Linked DNA regions of Homo sapiens: region 2 is linked to region 1. The links come from fine-mapping of genetic effects on gene expression. A gene starts in region 1. The other region holds a variant in brackets. All regions are shown on one strand. Distances are between the middles of the regions. Region 1 holds the start of CSF3R (colony stimulating factor 3 receptor). Region 2 overlaps OSCP1 (organic solute carrier partner 1).

What was found.
Region 2: its variant is fine-mapped to the expression of CSF3R in whole blood (TOPMed, PIP 0.98).

Annotation. Positions count from the first base shown.
Region 1 is chr1:36,481,104-36,484,011 of GRCh38, reverse strand. CSF3R (colony stimulating factor 3 receptor) reads left to right here and starts at 1,099. Exons shown (of 17, transcript NM_000760.4): 1 at 1,099-1,201; 2 at 2,475-2,534. RefSeq lists an enhancer at 2,411-2,908.
Region 2 is chr1:36,422,815-36,425,722 of GRCh38, reverse strand. It overlaps OSCP1 (organic solute carrier partner 1), which reads left to right. Exons shown (of 10, transcript NM_145047.5): 5 at 2,257-2,360; 6 at 2,827-2,908. Among named protein-coding and RNA genes, the nearest start is that of SNORA63C, 5.7 kb to the right of the region's middle. The variant G/A (reference allele first, on the strand shown) is at 1,618.

The DNA of each region.
Region 1 (2,908 bases):
TATCTAGGCAATAGATGAGGGTAGCTTGGAGCTGGCTAGTATTGGTTTCAGTTATATTTATATTTTCCAAATATTATCATAAAAATATTCAAACGTAGAGCCAAGTTGAACTTTACAGTGAATACCCAGGATTCTGGTTATATTTGGAAAGAAGAGAGTCCATGGGACTCACTGAGCGAGCAGAGCCTGTGGGATATCTTGGGAGGGTTGCAGCAGGCAGTCAGGTCATTTGACTTGGAACTAGAACTACAGCCCTGGTCTGCAGCATCACACCAGACCCAGATGCCTCAAAAGGATTATATGTTAAGGACAGTCTGCTGGTCTGTTGGCACCTAACCTTTTTTGGGTTATGAATCCAATAAACTATGAGCAGTTTGAACCTTTCTCAGAAAATGCAAAGAAAATTATTTGTAGTTTTAGAAGAATCATGAATACAGACAATAAAAGACATAAAATGTAGTCTATTTCACTCAATTACAAAATATTCAGTGTTGCAGAACCATTGTGGGTAAACATTCCTAATTTTTAGTGAACATATAAAGACCCCGTGCCTCACCAAGACGTCCTCCTGTCTTGCCCCCAGAATTCCTGTTTCTCCATCTGCCTGGTCTATGGGCAATGCACAGAATACGTAATGAAGAGGGGAGCAGTGAGTATTGGGTTACACAATTCCCTGGAACCTGGAACACACCCTTCTGAGTACTGTGAAGATGTGGTCCCCAAGGCTAGAGCTGAAAAGAGGCTTAGGGCCGGGTGAGCCTTCCAGCCAGGGCCTGCCTCCAAGTGATGCTCCCCCAGGGCAGGGGGCATAAGGATGGCACCCAGCCAGGTGGGAGCCTGGGCCCTGCCCAGCCTCAAAGCTTTGAGCTCAGGAAATCCGGAGGCAGGGGAGGGGGACATCGTTGCCACATTCCCCAGCCCTTTAAGACCCCCAAGGCAGGAAGGCTGCCCGGGCCTCACCAGCTTCCCTCACAGGCTCCTTCCTGGGAGGAAGGGGCTGCCTGTGCCCTCGAAGGCGCAAGGGAGGGCAGGAGGGAGGCTCGGAAGGTGTTGCAATCCCCAGCCCCCGGGCCTGTCAGAGGCTGAGCCATTAACGACAGAGCTCGGGGAGAGAAGCTGGACTGCAGCTGGTTTCAGGAACTTCTCTTGACGAGAAGAGAGACCAAGGAGGCCAAGCAGGGGCTGGGCCAGAGGTGCCAACGTGAGTAGGGGATCCCTAGAGAGGGGCTGAGCCTTGGGCTTGATGGAGAGCTGGAATCCTGGGGCCACTCCCCACAGCTCTGCCAAGTGTTCATGTCCGGGGTCCTAGGCCTGGGGCCCGGGATTCGTCCTTTGGAACCCCAGCCCTGGACACTGAGTCTCTTTTCACAGGATGCCCCTACTTTTGGGGGTATTGCACCAGGGAAGTCACTCACAGCCAAGTATCTCCTTGGGGACACTGAGCTGGGCTGGGGACAGGCATAATCATTCTCCCCTCCCCATGCCTCTGTCTCTCAGGACGTGTGTGTCTGTGAGTTCCAGCCGCGCAACCCCTCCCCGTCTGGGTCTCTATTTCACTCTCTGTTTCCATCTTTCCTCCTCAGCTTCTCTCTGGCTTGCTATCTCTCTGAGTTTCTCTGTCTCGCATATTTCCTGCTATCTCTTGAATCTTAAACTCTCGGTAACAGACGCTTCCCGGGCTCCAGGCCTCCGAGTGCCCCCCCCCCGCCCACTCTCTGGGTCGGCGTACATTGGGCCCTTTTTCTCTGTCTCTCGATATCTCTCTGGCCTCAATCGTCCTCTTGGCGAGTCTCTCTGTCGTTTCAGTCTGTGTGGATTTCAGTCACCGCCTCACTCTGTCACTCTTCCTGTTGCTCTCTCTTTTTCTTTATCTGCAGCATATCTGGAAATGCCTCTCCCCTCTGTTTATTCCCAGCCCCCTCCTCCCTCCCCACCCTTCCCACAGAAAGAATCTCGAGGTGAGAGTAGAAACAGCAAGGGAGCGAGGGGTGTGAAGTGGGGAAGAGAGTGTGAGGGGAGAGGGCTGAGCGTGATGAGGGAGAAACAGAAAGAGGGAATGTGAAGGCAGCCAGCCCAGGAGACATCGAGCTGTGCTGGGCCACAGGAGTGAGCACCTGCAGAGCCCAGCAGAGATGGCCGCAGTGACAGGAGGGCCAGGGGGCCCAGGAGTTAGGAGGAGAGGATCCAGAAAGGGGGCTTTGGAACTGCGCAGTGTGGCACAGACAAAAGCAAGGTGGCAGTCCTGGGAGGTGTGACCACACAGGCTGTGAGGGAGGCAGGGGTGAGGGGAAAACTGAACTGTGCTGGATTCTGTGAGCTGCTGACCTGCTATTTATGGCTCGTGAAAATAACCTATGGTTGCTGAGTGCCAACTCCATGCAAGGCACAGGGCTAAATGCCTTTACCAAAATAATCTCATTTCATCCTCACAACAACGCTGAGGAGTGAGTGCTAATGTTATTTCTTTCCCACAGATGGGGAAACTGAGGCTCGGCTCGGAAAGGTGAAGTAACTTGTCCAAGATCACAAAGCTGGTAAGTGGCGGAGCTGGAGATCAAGTCAGGTGACCTGAATCTGAGCTGGGCTCCAAACCTCTCTGCATATCGGCCCCCCAGAGAGTGAGACCATGCTCCAACAGGTCCTAGGCCCACTTAACCAGGCTGGGGGACGTCCAGGGCTGCAGTGGAGGACCAGAGACTGAGGCCAAGCAGGCCAACACCCAGCACCCAGGGGAAGGATGCCGGGGCCTCTTGGGGTTAGGTTGTCTACTCTGGACAGGAGCCAGTGGAGGCGGATAGGGTGGTACTGCACGGGGCATAGGCTGGGCCTGAAGCTGACCCTGGCTAGGGCAACAGGGCTGGGATAGGATCAAAAGCACATGGAGATGAAAACCAGTGTCCCAAAATCT
Region 2 (2,908 bases), 58 kb after region 1:
CTTGCTCTGTTGCCCAGGCTGGAATACAGTGACAAGGTCTCAGCTCAATGCAACCTCCACCTCCTGGGTTCAAGCGATTCTCCTGCCTCAGCCTCCCGAGTAGCCAGATTACAGGCACATGCCACCACACCCAGCTAATTTTTTGTATTTTTAGTAGAGACAGGGTTTCACCATGTTGGCCAGGCTGGTCTTGAACTCCTGACCTCATGATCCTCCCGCCTCAGCCTCCCAAAGTGCTGGGATTACTGGCGTGAGCCACTGTACCCAGCCGGCTTTACTTTTTATACACTGTCTGATTTAGTTGTCACAGTAACCCACCGAGTTATCTATTATTATTACTATTATTACCCCCAGGTTACCAAAGGGAAAACTGATGCACAGAAAGGTTGTGTAATTTCCCAAAAACCCAGAAGTGGCCCGTCCAGTATTTAAGCCTTCAGAGTCTAACATCAGTATGCCAAGCTGCCAGCTCACACATTCTTATCGCTTTGCATTTTCACTGCCTTGCACACAACAAATGCTTATTCTTTCCATTTTTTTTTTTTTTTTTGAGACAGAGTCTTGCTCTGTTGCCCAGGCTGGAGTGCAGTGGCATGATCTCGGCTCACTGCAACCTCCACCTCTGGGGTTCAAGCGATTCTCGTGCCTTGTCCTTGTGAGTAGCTGGGATTACAGGCATGAGCCACCACACCCTGGTAATTTTTTTATTTTTATTAAACACAGGGTTTCACCATGTTGGCCAGGCTGGTCTCGAACTCCTGACCTCAGGTGATCCACCCGCCTCAGCCTCCTAAAGTGCTAGGATTACAGGCGTAAGCCACCACACCCAGCCTAAGATACTTATTCTTGATTATATTACTAATATAACCTTATAGAATATTAGAGTTGAAAAGATCTTCAAGCTCATCTCTTATTTTACAGATAAGGAAGCCAAGACCCAGTAAAACTGATTAACTGCTACTATCTTTATGAGATTTAATCTGTGAGTGACCGAAACCTCTATACAGAGTACACGAACCCAGGAGAAGGAATAAGTGTAATGTGTTTTCAGTCACCTAAAAGATCCTCAAACTTAAATGTCAGCTGGATCCCCCTGCCCCAGCCCCATCCTTCTTTCTAGTCCAGCATGTGGATAAGGTTCGGGCTCCAAAGTCAGAATCACAGGAGTTTGAATCCTCAGCTCTGCCCCTTACCAGCTGGCTGACCTTGAGGAGGCATCTTAACCTCTGAGCTGCCTCATGTAGAAAGTGGCCATATGAGGTTCTTACAGCTCAAGGCCTGCAGCTGCATGGAAAGTAGGCAGGGAACCAAGGCATACGGGTGGAATTTGGAGTCACCTTTGGTTTTGAATCCTGGCCCTGCCTCTTAGCTCTCTTTGGGCAAGTCACTTCACTCTCTACTTTAGCTTTCTCGTCTTTAAAATGGGGGTAATAGGACTCACCTGGAAGGTTTGCTGCGCTGCTCAAAAGTAGTTCTGTTTGTAGCCGAGCACGGTGGCTCACGCCTGTAATCCCAGCACTTTGGGAGGCCGAGGCAGGCAGATCACTTGGGCTTAGGATTTTGAGCCTGGCCAACATGGCGAAAACCCATCTCTACAAAAAAATATAAAAATTAGCT[G/A]GGCACAGTGGCTCACACCTGTGGTCCCAGCTACTTGGGGGCTATGACGGGAGAATCGCGTGAGCTGGCGGGGCTGAGGTGGCAGTGAGGCAAGATCGTGCCACTGCACTCCAGCCTGGGTGACAAAGTGAGTCCCTATCTCAAAAAAAAAAATAGTTCTGTTTGTTAAAATACAGTTAACTCTGCAAGTGTAATTTTTTCTCCCTTCTTTTTTTTATTTTTTTATTTTTTTGAGATGAAGTCTTACTCTGTCGCCCAGGCTGGAGTGCAATGGCACGATCTTGGCTCACTGCAACCTCTGCCTTCCAGGTTCAAGCAATTCTCCTGCCTCAGCCTCCTGAGTAGCTGAGACTGCAGGTGCCCACCACCACGCCCGGCTAATTTTTTGTATTTTTAGTAGAGACAGGGTTTCACCGTGTTAGCCAGGATAGTCTCTATCTCCTGACCTCATGATCCGCCTGCCTCAGCCTCTCAAAGTGCTGGGATTACAGGCATGATCCACTGCGCCCAGCCTCTCCCTTCTTATTGTTATAAACTCATAGGTCATGTTCCCAAACCATTACGCACTTTCCACCCTCAGAATATTGATGTCTATGAAAATATACCAAGAAAAATGACAATAAATGTATTTTTTTCCAGGTATCCATGTTTCTAAAGGACAAAGTTCAGAATAATAACGGTCGCTTTGTGTTGCCGGTGTCCGGGCCTGTTCCTTGGGGAACTGAAGTTCCAGGACTCATCAGGTGAATTCCCAACAATGATCAGAGCTATGTTTGGGGTGCTAGGAAATCAGCACATGGGCCGCACACGGAATGCCGCACTGCCAAGCCACTCACAGTCTGCCCAGCCCTTCTCTTTCTTCAGTAAAACAGCTATTGAAAAAGTCAGGTTCTAATCCCCACCTTGTCACTTAGTAGAGGGACTTGAGGCAAGTTACCCAGTTCCCCAGGACTAATTTCCTCATCTGTTAAATGGTTACTGTGTGGATGAATAAGATAATAGTGCTCTAACGTGCTTACAAAGCAATTGGCACATACATATGCTCAATAAATATTATTATTGTATTATTATTATTATTATTACAACCAGCACCTTTATCTTGAAGGAGAGCATGTATTCCTTTTTTGTTCTGTAGTACAAAGAATAAAGAAGCCTCCAGGACTACCTAAGCTTGGAGAACATTCCATCATGTCATACTTTGTATTGTAGAATGTTCAACAACAAAGGTGAAGAAGTGAAGAGGATAGAATTCAAGCATGGTGGAAACTATGTCCCTGCACCCAAAGAAGGT